Linked DNA regions of Homo sapiens. The protein of the gene in region 2 interacts with the protein of the main gene of each other region in a pairwise test. Each region holds a gene or a part of one and is shown on either strand. Other genes may lie near its edges.

Region 1 (3,653 bases), on a different chromosome or scaffold from region 2:
AAATCAGTTTCTTTTCTCTGATACTTTCAATCCTTGAGAACAGAGAATGTCTGCATATTTACTGGCTTAAAATTTCATACCCTAACATCATTAGCATATCAAGATGTTTTAGTGTACTCATCTTTATCACCAGATGTTGAGTTGATTGGTATTCCCTAATTTTTCTTCAGATAATCAAATGAATGTTTCTGTCATCAATTTCCCAAAATATATCTCCATACCAAGTTACATGTTCTTTCTATAGTTTTATGTTTTTAATGAACCATGTAGTTAAAATCATTCTGTTTTAATACTCGTACTTGCATGGCTATAAAATTTCTACTCTTGATGTTTTTATATGTAATTATTTCTAGGATCTGAAGAAGATGATGAAGTTGTGGCAATGATTAAGGAATTGTTAGATACTAGAATACGGTACGTGCTCCTCTCTCTACCTGAATTCAAGTGCTTTGGAGGCATTTTTCATTATAGCAATATAGTTTTAGTTGGCCATGAGATTATAGTAGATTTTCAAAATAAGTGCAAGTTAATGTAAACCACAACAGGTAGCCGTGACAATTGAATTTAAAGCCTGTATCTTCTCTACATTTACTCAAAATTTTAAAACATCCAATTTATTTAAACATATTCAATGAAGAAATGTATTCTTCACAGTCTCAATTTAGATTTGATATTGTTATAATACCAAATTTCTTAAAAAGAAAAAAAAAAGACTTAATGTTTGGCAAGGTTGTGAAGAGAGAATGAGTACCTATTTTCAGTATATTGCCCATACAGAATAAATGTTAAGTGAGTGGAGAACAGCAGGCTTCTACTTTTGCTTGTAGCAGACCAATAGTCATGCTGAGAACTCCCAGAAAAGCTGGATAAAGTACAATAAAAAGAATTTGTTTGAAAGCATTAGATAGCTGCCAGAGCAAGCAAAATGTGAGGTGCCAAGATCCTGGAGAGAAGGGAAGCTCACTGAGTTTTCCCTTCAGGCATTTGCTGTTCCTTGCTACATAGCTAGGGTAGAAGAAGCTGGGCAGAGGGCAGCTGCCAAGAATCAGAGAAACCACTGGGCTTTCAGAAAATTTGTTTAGATGGGAAGACAAAAATTAAAATTCTGGGTTACCAATGAAATCTTGATTTCAAGGACCAAGATCCTAGAGAGCAGGGAAGTTAAGAAAAGTAAGCCTATAGTTTTTGGTTTTTTTTTAAGACGGAGTCTTGCTCTGTCACCCAGGCTGGCATGCAATCTCAGCTCACTACAGCCTCGCCTCCCGGGTTCAAGCGGTTCTCCAGATTCAGCCTCCTGAGTAGCTGGGATTACAGGCACAGGCCACCACACCCAGCTAATTTTTGTATTTTTGGAAGAGACAGGGTTTCACCATGTTGGCCAGGCTGGTCTTGAACTCCTGACCTTGTGATCCGCCCACCTCAACTTCTCAAAGTGCTGGGATTACAGACATGAGCCACTGCGCCCAGCCAAGTAAGCCTATAGTTAGTAACAATGTATTGTATTCTTGAAAATTGTGGCTGGGTGTGGTGGCTCACGCTTGTAATCCCAGCTGTTTGGGAGGCGGAGGTAGGTGGATCACCTAAGATCAGGAGTTCAAGACCAGCCTGGCCAACATGTTGAAACCCCATCTCTACTAAGAATACAAAAATTAGCCAGGCGTGGTGGTGGGCATCTGTAATCCCAGCTACTAGGGAGACCGAGGTAGGAGAATCACTTGAACCCTGGAGGCGGAGGTTGCAGTCAGCCAAGATTATGCCATTGCACTCCAGCCTGGGCGACGAGCAAAACTCTTTCTCAAAAAAAAAAAAAAAAAAAAAAATTTGCTAAGATAGTAGTTATTAAGTGTTCTTGACACAAAAAATAAGTATGCGAGGTAATGTATATGTTAGTATATGTTAATTAGCTTGATTTAGCCATTCCATGGTGTATACAGATATTTTTTTTTTGAGACAGAGTCTTGCTCTGTCACCCAGGCTGGAGTGCTGCACGATATCAGCTCACTGCAACCTCTGCCTCCCAGGTTCAAGTGATTCTCCTGCCTCAGCCTCCTGAGTAGCTGGGATTACAGGCATGTACCACCACACCCAGCTAATTTTTGTAGTTTTAGTAGAGACAGGGTTTCACCGTGTTGGCCAGGTTGGTCACGACCTCCTGACCTCAGGTGATCTACCCTCCTCGGCCTCCCAAAGTGCCGGGATTACAGGCGTGGGTCACCGCTCCCGGCCTACATATTTCAAAACATCATGTTGTACATGGAAATATCTATAATTTTTGTGAATTAAGAATAATTAATTGGAGGCCGGGTGCGGTGCCTCACGCCTGTAATCCCAGCACTTTGGGAGGCCGAGGTGGGTGGATCATGAGGTCAGGAGATTGAGACCATCCTGGCTAACACAGTGAAACCCTGTCTCTATTAAAAATACAAAAAATTAGCCGGGCATGGTGGCGGGGGCCTGTAGTCCCAGCTACTCGGGAGGCTGAGGCAGGAGAATGGCGTGAACCTGGGAGGCGGAGCTTGCAGTGACCCAAGATTGCACCACTGCACTCCAGCCTGGGCGACAGAGTGAGACTCTATCTCAAAAAAAAAAAAAGTAACCCTGGAACTAAAATTATAATAACTGAACTTAAGAACTCATTAGATTGGACATAGTTGAAGAGAAGATTAGTATACTGGAATTTAAGTCAGTAGAAAATATTCAGCCTGAAGCACAGGGAGAGAAGAGAATAGAAGATATGGGAAAGAAGCATGAGATGGTGGGCACGGTGCTCACACCTATAATTCCAGCACTTTGGGAGGCTGAGGTAGGAGGATTGCTTGAGCTCAGAAGTTAGAGACCACCCTGGCAACATAGTGAGACCTTGTCTCTACAAAAAATTAAAAAATTAGCTGGGTGTGGTGGTGTGCACCTGTAGTCTCAGCTGTTCCTGAGGCGGGAAGATTGCTTGAGCCCGGGAGATTGAGGCTGCAGTGGGCTGTGATCACACCATTGCACTCTGGTCAAGGAGATAGAACAAGACCCTGTCTCACCAGAAAAAAAAAAATGAATCAAACCTCCGGAGGGGAGAAATAGAATAAAAAATAATTCATCAATCTGAAACAATGCAAAATAGGAAACAGTAAATGGTAATATAAACTCAAAAGTGTTGGCATTTAAATGACAGTAGTTTGATGAACAAAAATAAGATTGTCAAATTGGATGTGAAAAAACAAAAAAACAAAATCAACTATAGACTGCTTAGAAGAGATATAGGGGCCAGGCATGGCGGCTAATGCCTGTAATCCTAGCATTTTGGGAGGCCAAGGTGGCAGATTGCTTGAGCCCAGGAGTTTGAGACCAGCCTGGGCAACATAGTGAGACCCCGTCTCTACAATGAAAGAAAGAGAGAAAGAGAAAGAAAGAGAGAGGGAGGGAGGAAGGAAGTGAAGGAAGGAAGGAGGGAGGGAGGGGAAAAGAAAAGAGAAGAGAAAAGGAAAGAAATAGAATATTTGTATGACCTTCGGGTAGGCAATTTTTTTTTTTTTCCCCAACGGGACACAAGAAATCAGATAAAGACCGGGCGCGGTGGCTTACACCTGTAATCCCAGCACTTTGAGAGGCCGAGGTGAATGGATCATCTGAGGTTGGGAGTTCGAGACCACCCTGACCAACAT
Region 2 (4,332 bases):
CATCTACAGCGGGCAGGTATGTCTTCTCGTACAGGTTCTGGGCGGCTGTCTTTGCTGACTCCCAGTAACTGGAGAGAGATTCCTTCACCTGGGTGAGGAAGGTCGGGCTAGGCATCTCATCTTGCTGGGGCTGTTGGGTCCCCTGGACCTCTGCAGGGGGAGAGTGTGTCAGGAGAGCCCGTGGGGCTGCAGCAGGGGGAAAGGAGGAAGGAAGAAGAGGAGAGGGCAGAGGCAGAGGTAAGAAGGGCCTGGGCTGGGAAGATGCTTGGAGCTCATTCCCCTCCCCAAGGCTTCCCTCCCCGGAAGCCCACACTCACCAAATCCCAATACCAGGAGGACAAGAAACAGAGCTGGGAGGAGTCGTGTGCCCATAGTGTCCAGAGACCTGGAACATTGAGGGGGTGTCATGTGGCAGGCTGACTGGAGGCGGCTGTTCCTGTGGTCACGCCCCACTCTGGTGGGGGGGACTGAGATCCTGCTCTGTGTGAGCTCGGTGTCCCAGTCAAGTTTCCCATGCATGGACTTGGACACAGCCCCCTTCTTGGGCCTCACTTTCCAACATTCTGTGATTCTACTCCTGATTTTAACATTTTAATTATTATTTTTTTCTTTTTTGAGATGGAATCTCACTCTGTTGCCCAGGCTGGAGTGCAGTGGTGCAATCTTGGCTCACTGCAACCCCCACCTCCCAGGTTCAAGCAATTCTCCTGCCTCAGCCTCCCCAGTAGCTGGGATTACAGGCACCCGCCACCACCCGGCTGATTTTTGTTTTCGTATTTTTTGAGATGGAGTCTCGCTCTGTCACCCAGGCTGGAGTGCAGTGGCGTGTTCTCGGCTCACTGCAACCTCTGCCTCCAGGGTTCTAGCAATTCTTCTGCCTCAGCCTCCCAAGGAGCTGGAATCACAAGCACCTGCCACCATGCCCGGCTAATATTTTGTATTTTTAGTAGAGATGGGGTTTCACCATGCTGGCCAGGCTGGTCTCGAACTTCTGACCTCGTGATCCGCCCACCTTGGCCTCCCAAAGTGCTAGGATTACAGGCTTGAGCCACTGTGCCCCACCTGATTTTTGTATTTTTAGTAGAGATGGGGTTTCACCATGTTGGCCAGGCTGGTCTTGAACTCCTAACCTCAAGTGATTTGCCTGCCTTGGCCTCCCAAAGTGCTGGAATTACAGGCATGAGCCACCATGCCCAGCTGCTAATTTTTATTCTTTTGTAGAGATGGGAGACTTGTTTTGTTGCCCAGGCTGGTCTGGAACTCCTGGGCTCAAGCGATCCTCCCATCTCGGCCTCCCCAGGGTGCTGGGAGTACAGGTGTGAGCCACTGAGCCCAGCCTAGAAGGCTTTCTTGAGCACCTAAACAGTTCTGGGCCCAGCAGGGAACACAGCAAAGCCTCTGCCCTTTGCTAAGGCTGAGTCAGTGCAGGGAGGTGCTCTGCAGACACCATTAAGGACCTACAGTAGATCAAATGTGTTACCTTAGGGCTCTGCCCTAAGTCAGACCTCATGTCCCTGCATCTCCTCACTGAGTTCTCACCTGCTCTATGAGAGAGGCACTTTTGGTGACGAAGAACATGCACAGGGCACAATATCATCATCCACACGTAGGAGATGAGGAAGTACGGCAGAAAGAGGGTGAGATCTGATCCCCGGAGAAAGAACACAAGCAAATGGTCTACAATTCTTTTTTTTTTTCCAAGACAAGGTCTTGTTCTCTCGCCCAGGCTGGAGTGCGATGGCGCAATTTTGGCTCACCGCAACCTCTGTCTTCCGGGTTCGAGCGATTCTCCTGCCTCAGCCTCCTGAGTAACTGGAAATACAAGCATGCACCACCATGCCTGTCTAATTTTTGTATTTTTAGTAGAGACGGGGTTTCACCATGTTGGCCAGGCTGGTCTCCAACTCCTGACATCAAGTGATCCGTTTGCCTTGGCCTCCCAAAGCGTTTGGATTACAAGTGTAAGCCACCACGCCCAGCCTACAGTTCTTTTTTAGTTTTTTAAATTTTTTCATTCTTTTTTTCCGCCAAGACTGAGTCTTGCTCTGTCACCCAGGCTAGAGTACAGTGGCACGATCTGGGCTCACTGCAACCTCCGCTTCCTGGGTTCAAGCAATTCTCCTGTCTCAGCCTCTGGAATAGCTGGGATTACAGGCATATGCTACCACACCCGGCCAATTTTTGTATTTTTAGTATAGATGCGGTTTCACCATGCTGGTAAGGCTGGTGTCGAACTCCTGACCTCAAGTGATCCACCCGCCTCGGCCTCCCAGAGTGCTGGGATTACAGGCATGAGCCATTGTACCTATCCCTTTTTCTTTCTCTTTTTTAGAAATGGGGTTTCTCTGTCACCCAGGCTGGAACACGGTGGCAAGATCACAGCTCACTGCATCCTCAAACTCCTGGGCTCAAGGGATCCTCCCCACCTCAGCCACCCTAACTCTAAGCAGAAGCTCAAATAGTCTACAGTTCTAAATTCTGTGATTTGTGGAGTGTGGTGGTGCACCTGTAGTCCCAGCTACTGGGGAGGCTGAGGCAGGAGGATTGCTTGAGCCCAGGAGTTTGAGTCTAGCCTGGGCTACATAGCGAGACTCCATCTCCCTCTCTCTCTCTCTCACACACACACACACACACACACACACACACACACACACACACAGTCATGGTTCCAACACGGGCTTCTAATATTGTGCCTCTTAAAATTCCTGCTTTATCGATCTTTGCCCTCTCCCTGCTGACGCCCCCCTGTCCCCGCACCCTGAGTCCCTTTCTTACCAGACTCTGGCAGGCTGTCCTCACCAGCTCCGGACGGGCACAGAGAGGATTTATAGTGGTTGAGACCCACTTCCGCTCCACAGCCACAACCCCCATCCTTTGTCTAGGCCAAAGTCCTGGCCAACAGAACTGCGGAGGGGGTGGGTGGGGACAGAAAGGGCAATGACGTCCCCCAAGGTCACGTCACAGGGAACCTTCTCTCAAGTGACAGGGAACCCTCACTCTGAGAATTCGCCTCCGACAGAGGCTGGGTTGGGGGCTGTGGAGGGGTTGGAGGTGCTGGGTGCCCACTGGGAATGGAGTCAGAGCTTGTAGGAGACAAGGGCGAAGCTCTCAGTGAGGGCCATCATGGGGACCTGCTGACTCCACCCACGCTCCTGCCCTCACCCTCCTGAAACTGACACGCCTTGAAGTCCCCCATTCTCCGCAAGCCCACAATAGGGTGTTATTCCTTGATACCCTTCCCGACCTCCCTACTCTTCCTTCCCCATCAGGTGTCACCTCTTCTACTCATTGATTCCTGGGAGGCAGTGGGGTGGGTTTTTTTCTGGCCACACTGGGGAAGGATCCAGACAGGGACACAGGTGAGACTTTATTTATTGGAGAAGTATGAACTTTTTTTTTTCTTTTTGTTTTACCCCCAAGAGATCTCGCTGTGTTGCCCAGGCTGGTCTCGAACTCCTGGGCTCAAGCCATCATCCTACCTCAGCCTCCTGAGTAGCTGGGACTACAGGCACCCGCCACAACCACACCTGGCTTTTATGAACATTTTAACCCTGGTCCTTGTCCCCACAGACAAGCCTGGGGCACAGGCTGTGGGTCTTCTTCAAGAGGCTGTCTTTGGATTCGAGGAACCAGGCCTTGGTGAGCGGACCCAGGTCCCTCAGGTGGTCGTCATAGTAGGTCTGCATGAAGCCCCGGAAGGTGCTCGGGCTCCTACAGGAGAGAGGACATCACAGTGGAGGCCCCAGCTCTCCCCAGGTGTTCTCTGCCCCATTTATCCGCTCCTCTCTGTGACCTAGGAGTTCCTGCTCTCAGCTCTAACCCTCCACTCCTCCCAGACCTAGGGGTCACAGCCCCACTCCCACCCTTTCCTCCTCCCTGAGACTCAGGGGTCCAGGCCCCAGCCCCTCCTCCCTCAGACCCAGGAGTCCCCTCCCACCACCCAGCCCAGCACACCCTCACCAGAACCATTGCCACCCGTCTCTGGTCCTGTTCACCACTGTCTCCAGCAGCTCCTTCATCCTGCCCCTCACCAGGCTCCAGCGACTCATCTTTAGCTTTGGTGGGGGGCTCAGGGTTCCTTCCTGGGCCTCTGGCTGGCATGCTAGGTGGAACCAGAGGGCAACTTGGGTAGGCTGGGACCCTAGAATCCCCTTCTCCCTTTCCCTCCATGCTCATCCTGTGTCGCTCCCGGTGGCCCAGGGGCAGCCCCCTGCCAGTCCTCTTGCCTCCTGCCTTTACCCTTATGTGTCCCCTGACCGCTAACCCCTCTTTAACCATCAGCCATCTCTTTTTTTTTTTCTTTTTTCTTTTTTTTTATGAGACAGAGTCAGT
Region 3 (4,113 bases), on a different chromosome or scaffold from region 2:
GATCAGAGAGGGCTTCCTAAAGGAAGAAACATCTAAGCTGAAATCTAGGCTGCCAGAGGATGCACAGGCATGTCAGATATGGCATGTCAGAGAATACTGCCTAACTGTTATAGGATGAATTGTGCTCTCCTTCCCCGAAAATTTATGCTGAAGCTCTAACCCCCAGAACCTTGAAATGTGACTATATTTGGAGATAAAGCCTTAAAGAGATGATTAAGTTAAATGAGACCATCAGGGTGGGCCAAAATCCAATCTGACTGGCATCCTTATAAGAGGAGCAAATGTGGAGTAAGAGCCACCAGGAGCACGCATGCACAGGGAGGACCATGCAAGGACACAGCAAGAAGACGGCCATCTGTAAGCTGAGAGAGGCCTCAGGAGAAAACAACCCCTCCGACACCTTGATACTGAAATTCAGGTTGTTTGCTTTATATAAGCAACAATGCTTACAGGCTGGCTGATGAATGGGGTGGAAATACTGCTTAATAGCAAGGAAGGAGGTGAAAATAGCTAACAGCTGGAGGACCACTAGGACTGGAGTGACCCCAAAAATGCTGCATGCTCCTCTGTGTGTTCAGAGGAAACAAGTACTGAGGCCTGATGCCTGCCCATGGTGGGGAGATGATTTCCATTCCTTACTGAAACATAAATGAACTGGTACCATCATATGTGTTATGAGGTGGACAAGCTCATATATCATCAGTGGGCATTGTACAGAACAGTAGGATCAATACAACTTACCACTGCATGGACAAAAGACTTTGAGAACTGACAAGAGCAGAGGTTTATCAATTATAATGCTGAGTTAAGCATCTTAATCAAGTTTGTTCTTTGACTTTTTTTATATAAATATATATAGTAGTCAAGAGTTGACTCAGAGAAGCAGGCAGCAGGAGTTAATACTGACACTTATTAAACAAAGTTGAAAACATTTGATTTACAACTGATTGGTCTTATAAATACAAATGGCCATGATTATGGAAAGAATCTGAAATAAATTTGGAGTAAAATATCAATACCAGTATACAACCAATACTGTAAAATGATTACACCAATAGCATGGTTTTAAGGCATATGGAGGTATGAAGCGGGAAATAAACTTTCTGACTTCTATTGTGGTTTTTTTGTTTGTTTTTGTTTTTTGAGACGGAGTCTCGCTCTGTCACCCAGGCTGGAGTGCAGTGGCGCAATCTTGGTTCACTGCAACCTCCACCTCCCGGGTTCATGCAATTCTCCTGCCTCAGCCTCCAGAGTAGGTGGGACTACAGGGGCTCGCCACGCCTAATTTTTGTATTTTTAGAAGAGACACTGTTTCACCATATTGGCCAGGCTGGTCTCGAACTCCTGACCTTGTGATCCACCTGCCTCGGCCTCCCAAAGTACTGGGATTACAGGCGTGAGCCGCCATGCCTGGCCGACTTCTATTGTTATCAGCAGTTCTGCAATGTTTGGGAACGATACAATCTGTAAAGGAGTCCAAAAAAAAAAAAAAAAAGCATGTACCCACAAAATCTACAAATAATCTCAGGACCCAAGTGACCATATGTCACAAGGGTAAGGCAAGGTATAATCAGCCATTCAGAAACAGGTACGTAACTAACAAAGTCAGGGATAAGAATCTCTAAAGGCTAAATATTTTCTGTGTGCAGGGTGCTGTGCACTTAGCCACCAGGCAGTCTCAGCAAATCCTTTGAAAGGGTAAAATTGCTCATCTCCAGTTTAATCTTTACGGAGTATGGGGTGGTGTATTGGTCGGCTCTGTCTAATAGCTGGCAGGAAGTTCTGCTCTTCTACCCAAGGTGACATTACAGCACTTTGGAAATGTTATCTCAATTATTCTTCAATCTTACCCATTTATTAATGTATTCAGCAAACATTCATGGAGTGCCTACTATGTGCCAGGCATTGTCTTGCCCACTTTGTAAATTTGAAAATTATGTTCAGACAAGATGAGCCATATAGCTTTTTCTTTCTGAGACAGGGCCTGGCTCTGTATCCCAGGCTGGAGTGCAATGGCACGATCACAGCTCACTACAACGTCCAACTCCTGGGTTCAAGCGATCCTCCCCTTCAGCCTCCCAAGTAGCTGAGACTACAGGCGTGTACCACCATTCCCGGCCCAGAAGCTTACTTTAAGTCAAGCAATGGCTGGAAGGCTCTATGTCTGGGCCACTAATCACGTTTGATCACTTGTATCCCAGTGAAGAAAACTCACTGCTAAGCACTTCTGCGAGCAATAGTTGAACTCATTAGAGACGGATAGGTCAATCAGGGAAATAAACAAACCTGCTTCGCTCCCTCGGAGAACTCTGTGATGCTGAACTCTTTGTCGAAATAGGCCCAGATAAGGAAGGCCTTAATTCGAGTCCTAACCCAGTTGATGGGGTTGGAGAATCCCAGGACGATCATCTTGGTTTTCTGGTGCTGCTGGGGCTTCTCCTCCGTGCTGTAGCTGCGCTGAGGGCAGGCAGGGAAAGAAGCGAAGGCTGCGGGGAGTCCCGGGCTGCTGAGCACTGGCCACCGGGAGCCCTGGGCAGGTAGCGCCGAGGCTGCCAAGGCCCTAGCGCTTCGTGGAAATAACGCCGCTCCCAAGCCGAGGCGACAGCGGCAGAAGTAGCAAAGTGTGGCCGACGGCAGCCTCACCTCGGCCACAGCAGGAGTCCGGAGTCGGACGGCCCCGCAGGGCAGCGACCGAGAGTGCAGGAACTGGGGTAGCAAACGAGCGGCCAGCGCCATTTTTATGACCCTTCACACCGGTGCCTGCCGGTGCTGTATGGAAAGGAAGTCGGTGGGAAACCGCCTCAGCGGTGTCGGAGAAAGAGACTGGAGAGCAAAGTGGACCTGTTGCTGCAGCCTCTGGTGAGTCGGCCCCGTCCCCGCTCTCCAGCACGCAGCCCAGGCCGAGGCCCTTCGGCAACCCGCCCCGCGCTCGGACCCAGCCACTCTGGAGTCTGCCGGCCTCGCGGACCTTTTCTCTGTCGCTCGTGTTTCCGGGCGGATGGCGCTGAGGAACGCTTTAGAGCCGAAGTTCCGAAGACCTGGAAGAGGGCAGGCGTGAGCAACCATGGCCGGGCAGCACCTCCCGGTACCCCGGCTGGAGGGCGTTTCTCGGGAGCAGTTCATGCAGCACCTCTACCCACAGGTGAGGCCCTCGCGCGGGGCAGAACCTCGAGAAACCAGCGAGAGACACGTCTTTACCTTTCGGACAGCTGGGAACTGGTTTTTAGAGACCCAGGGTGTGGGAAAGAGGCGCAGGACGGCAGCAGATCACTGGTTGGCCCTTAGACCAAGGGAAAGGTGCACGGGGGACGCCGACTGGCTCCTCTATTGAAATTTCCGGAGAAAGTCCCATGTTTCTGGGGAGCAAGATGATGGCGGAGAGCTGAGTGCGAGAGGTATTTTGCCTAAACTCTTTACTCCGCATCTGTCAGTCTGCTCCGAATTAATGGATTTGAAGGCACAACTTTTCACTCCACTGAGCCAAAAAGGAAAGCAATGGGATTCCCCCGGAAAACTCCTACTCGTCTTGAATTCTAACTTACTTAGGTTCTAGTTCCGACATTGGAGTCTTTTATACCTGTAGTTAGAACCTTAGGTCTTTAAAAGAAAACTCATAGAGAAATATTAGGGAAACAAAAAGTGCTTTTACTTGCAGTGCTTTTCAAGGGAGTCCAGACCTAAGAAAAACAAGGTATTAAAAGGAAAAATCCACAGGATTACAGTAAGTCAGTTTATGGTAGGAAAAATACCCAGCAATTTTCTTACCTGATATTTACATTTATAAGGGTGGTCATAGAATTACAGTTCTGGGGCCGGGCGCGGTGGCTCACGCCTGTAATCCCAGCACTTTGCGAGGCCGAGGCGGACGGATCACCGGAGGTCAGGAGTTCAAGACCAGCCAGTAGAAATCCCATCTCTACTAAAAATACAAAATTAGCCGGGCATGGTGGTGGCCCATACCTGTAATCCCAGCTACTCGGGAGGCTGAGGCAGGAGAATCGCTTGAACCCGGGAGGCGGAGGTTGCAGTGAGCCGAGATCGCGCCACTGCACTCCAGCCTGGGCAACAAGAGCTAAACTCGGTCTCAAACAAACAAACAAAACTACAATTCTG
Region 4 (3,653 bases), on a different chromosome or scaffold from region 2:
GTCTCACTCTGTGCCCTTTACCCACTTTCAACCTGAGTTTCAGAGCATCATCCTGACTTCCTGTGTTTTTTAATTTTTCCAAAAATGAGACAATTTGAGTGTTTTCATTTTTATAAATCTGTAACATTTGCATAAAATTCACAAAGCATACTGCCTTCTGCTTCTTCAGAGCTCACCACAGCAGCCTCTTATTCAGATGGACTTCCCCAATAGCAGCTCAAACACCAAAAATTACCCTTCCAGCGCCATTGTTTCTACAGTGCAACAGCTCTCAGGTTGGAAAGAAGAGAACAATTTCTTCTCTGACGGAGGCAGTTATTTCAGGCTTTACCACCTGCAATGGTTAACAGTAGGTGTCAACTTGACTGGATTGAAGGATGCCTAGATGGCTGGTGAGCAGTGTTTCTGGATGTGTCTGTGAGGGTGTTTCCAGAGAAGAATGATGCAGGAGTCAGTGGCCTAAGAGAAGCAGACCAACCCTCAATATGGATAGGCACCATCCAGTTGGCTGGTGGCCCCACGAGGACAAAGAAGGAGTGTGGGAAAAGATGGGGGATCCACCCTCTGCTCTGTCTCTCCCTGCCAGAGCAGGACTTTCTCCTCCTGCCCTTGGACGTGAGACTCCAGGTTCTTCAGCTTTTGGATTGTTGGACTTGTACCAGCAAGCTCCTAGAGGCTCTCAGTCTTTTGACCTCAGACTGGGAGCTGTACTGTTGGCTTCCCCAGTTTTGAGGCTTTCGGAATTGGACTGAGCCATGCTACCAGGCTCTCTGACAGCCATGCCACTGGCTTCTCTGGTTCTGCAGCTTGCTCATGACCTATGCTGGGACTTTACCTTTGTGATCGTGTTAGCCAATTCTCCCCTAATAAATCCATTTTTATAGATATATCCTATTGGCTCTGTCCCTCTGGAGAACCCTGACTAGTACACCATCCCAATGATATCTAAAGTCTTAAAGAGGAAATGTAATACTCCAAATAAAAATCTAATTGAAGAAGTAGATATAAAAGTTTCATGGGGAGTATAGCAGACAGACTCTAAGATGGTTTATGATTATCCTCATCTCCTAGTACTCACATCCTTGTTTAATCCCTTCCTTTTGAGTTAAGAAGGAACCTATGACTTGCTACTAGCCAAGAGAATACAGCAAAGGTGATGGAATGTCACTTGCATGATTCTATTACTAGCAGACTTTCTCCCTTGCTGGCTTTGATGAAGCAAGAGGCCATACTGGGAGGTTCACATAGAAGGAAATTGAGGGTAGCCTCTAGCTAAAGCCAGTAAGAAATTGAGGCCCTCAGTCCATCAGCCTGCAAGAGTCTGAATCCTGTCAATGCCCATGAGCTCAGTAGTGGATCTGCCCCACTCAAGCCTTCAGATGAAAGCCCAGCCATAGCTGACACCTTGATTGCAGCCAGCAAACTCCTGACCTACAGAGCTGTGGAATGACAGATAAGTGTTTTTTTAAGCCACTAGCTTTGTGGTAATTTGTTATGCAGCAATAGATAACAAATATAGGGGAGTATTTAAAAAACACTGTAGAAAATATGACTGTGATTCTAATTATCACCACTAAAATCTAACAATTGATTTGGGCTAGTTAGGAAAGATATTGTAATGCACTTCTAAAAAGTCTAAGAAATAGGATGATAGGGGTTAAGGGAGAGGGGTCATCCTCTACCTTTTTCTTGTGGAGAAGAAGGGGAGGGCTGTTGAAGGCAGCCCAGCGGCTGAGGGCTCTGCAAACCTGACACTAATAGAGCTGGTGTGTCTCAGCCAAAATACCAAGAATAGTGAAACCAAAGGGAAAAGCATATTGGCAGGTATGGGGAGTTAGAGCAAGAGCTGGGAAGCAAGAGAGACAGGGAATGTCAACATGGGCAGTGGGAGGATCCCAGAGCAGATGTCTGAGACAGAGAAAGGCTACTCCCAGAAGGAAGGGCTGGATGGCTAAGGTCAGCACCAGTGGAGACAAGGTCATTTATGTATGAGTATTACTAGCATATTAAGCTTTTTTAAAGCTCAATAATGGAACAGCCAGAAATTTTTCAGGCTTATCAACATCATTGAAGGGGCTTTTATAAAACTTCAGAGCCAGGAGGGCATTCAACTCTGAAAACTGAGGCGGGCTGATCACTTGGGGTCAGGAGTTCATGACCAGCCTGGCCAACAGGCTGAAACCCTGTCTCTTCTAAAAATACAAAAGTTAGCTGGGCATGGTGGCAGGCACTTGTAATCCCAGCTACTCAGGAGGCTGAGGCAGGAGAATCGCTTGAACCCAGGAGGCGGAGGTTGCAGTGAGCCGAGATCGTGCCACTGCACTCCAACCTGGGCGACAGAGCGAGACTACGTCTCAAAAAAAAAAAAAAAAAAAAAAAAAAAAAACTCTGAAGAGGTGCCCTGAAGCATATCCGCCCAGTGCTATAGCCATCCATCAGTCATTCCTGAGAGGGGTAGGCCACGAAGCCCAGAGAGATCGCCAAATGCACATCAGCGGAGAAGTGCTCAAAACCCTCTTGCCTCTTAAATCAAAGAGGTAGCTGTTGTAGCCCTTTTCACAGCCCATCAGTGAATTCTCCCAAGGTTTCTACAAGTTGTGTGTGTGCACATTTCACAAATCCACATGCTCATGGTACAAGTACACTTGCACAAAACAATAAACATTGGGGAAGAAAACATGATTATTACTTCTATTTAAAATCTGAGTTCTGCACCTTTGGGTGCTTGTCCTAGATTCTCTTCCCTAGTCTTACATTTGTACACAGATCATTTGTTCTTAATTTTATATTCCTCACACACAAAAAATGGAATCAATGACTAGGCACCCTGTTTCTGAGTCAGATTGTTCTCATAATATGAGGTACACCCTATGGGGAGGTACACGCCATTGGAAGGATCTTGTAGCAGGTAAAGGGACAGACATTTATTAATGCATATGTTGTGCCAGCAACTCTGTTCCATCTCTTTTACTCCTTGTAATTCCTCAGAGTGGAATAAGACAAAGCCTCCGGGAAGTTAAACAATTTACCTCTTACCCAGCCTTTGAGTGGCAGGACCAGAGTTCACGACTCAGGCACCTCTGGAACCAGGCCTGTGCTCTCTTCCACCATACCACACTCAGTTCTTCAATCTTTTGCAATTTCTATTGAGCTAAGCCAATTGAAAACCTCCTTGTAATTGGTAGGTTATCTGTATGGTGCTCTTTTGAATTAAGTATATAAACCAGGGGCATTTTCATGCAGGGTGGGTAAAATCATTTTATGTCTCTTAATCTTTGCTCCATTGTGAGTAAAATTATAGAATGTGACTTATTATATTCCTAAAATTAGACGCCAGAAGAATATTATATTCTCACAATAAGAAAATTTTATTCTAAAGGGGTAATATCCATCCATAAATGTAAACTACCTAAAATCAGATATGTATAATCCTTAATGGAAGGATGACAGCTGTGCATAAAATTTTTTTTGTAATATGCACTTCAGATACCTCTCCAATCTACTAGAAAGCACTGTCAGTGAGTTTGATTATCATCTTAATATACAGACAATTGTTAAATGGCATAATAGCCATCTTATCATTCATAATGCTAAATAATAGTTAATGACTAAATAATACCCTAGTGATCTAAAAGGACAAATGTCATCCAAAT

Evidence for each region. Proteins that work in one complex are often made in the same cells at the same time.
Region 1: the proteins of APOC2 (region 2) and NFU1 interact in a two-hybrid assay, tested with the Homo sapiens proteins (one large-scale study listed by BioGRID).
Region 3: the proteins of APOC2 (region 2) and MAIP1 interact in a two-hybrid assay, tested with the Homo sapiens proteins (one large-scale study listed by BioGRID).
Region 4: the proteins of APOC2 (region 2) and SYT16 interact in a two-hybrid assay, tested with the Homo sapiens proteins (one large-scale study listed by BioGRID).

Annotation. Positions count from the first base shown.
Region 1 is NC_000002.12:69,402,783-69,406,435, reverse strand, and holds part of NFU1 (NFU1 iron-sulfur cluster scaffold homolog, mitochondrial), read left to right. Parts: intron 1-353; coding exon 354-414; intron 415-3,653. UniProt on the Homo sapiens protein: Iron-sulfur cluster scaffold protein which can assemble [4Fe-4S] clusters and deliver them to target proteins.
Region 2 is NC_000019.10:44,944,519-44,948,850, reverse strand, and holds the start of APOC2 (apolipoprotein C-II precursor), read right to left. Parts: upstream 2,801-4,332; 5' UTR 2,776-2,800; intron 386-2,775; 5' UTR 373-385; coding exon 318-372; intron 151-317; coding exon 1-150. Other genes in the region: APOC4 (apolipoprotein C-IV precursor), read right to left, coding at 3,546-3,711, 3,961-4,102. UniProt on the Homo sapiens protein: Component of chylomicrons, very low-density lipoproteins (VLDL), low-density lipoproteins (LDL), and high-density lipoproteins (HDL) in plasma. Plays an important role in lipoprotein metabolism as an activator of lipoprotein lipase.
Region 3 is NC_000002.12:199,954,422-199,958,534, reverse strand, and holds the start of MAIP1 (m-AAA protease-interacting protein 1, mitochondrial isoform 1 precursor), read right to left. Parts: upstream 2,954-4,113; 5' UTR 2,737-2,953; coding exon 2,287-2,736; intron 1-2,286. Other genes in the region: TYW5 (tRNA wybutosine-synthesizing protein 5), read left to right, coding at 3,065-3,142. UniProt on the Homo sapiens protein: Promotes sorting of SMDT1/EMRE in mitochondria by ensuring its maturation.
Region 4 is NC_000014.9:61,819,203-61,822,855, reverse strand, and holds part of SYT16 (synaptotagmin-16), read right to left. Parts: intron 1-3,653. UniProt on the Homo sapiens protein: May be involved in the trafficking and exocytosis of secretory vesicles in non-neuronal tissues. Is Ca(2+)-independent.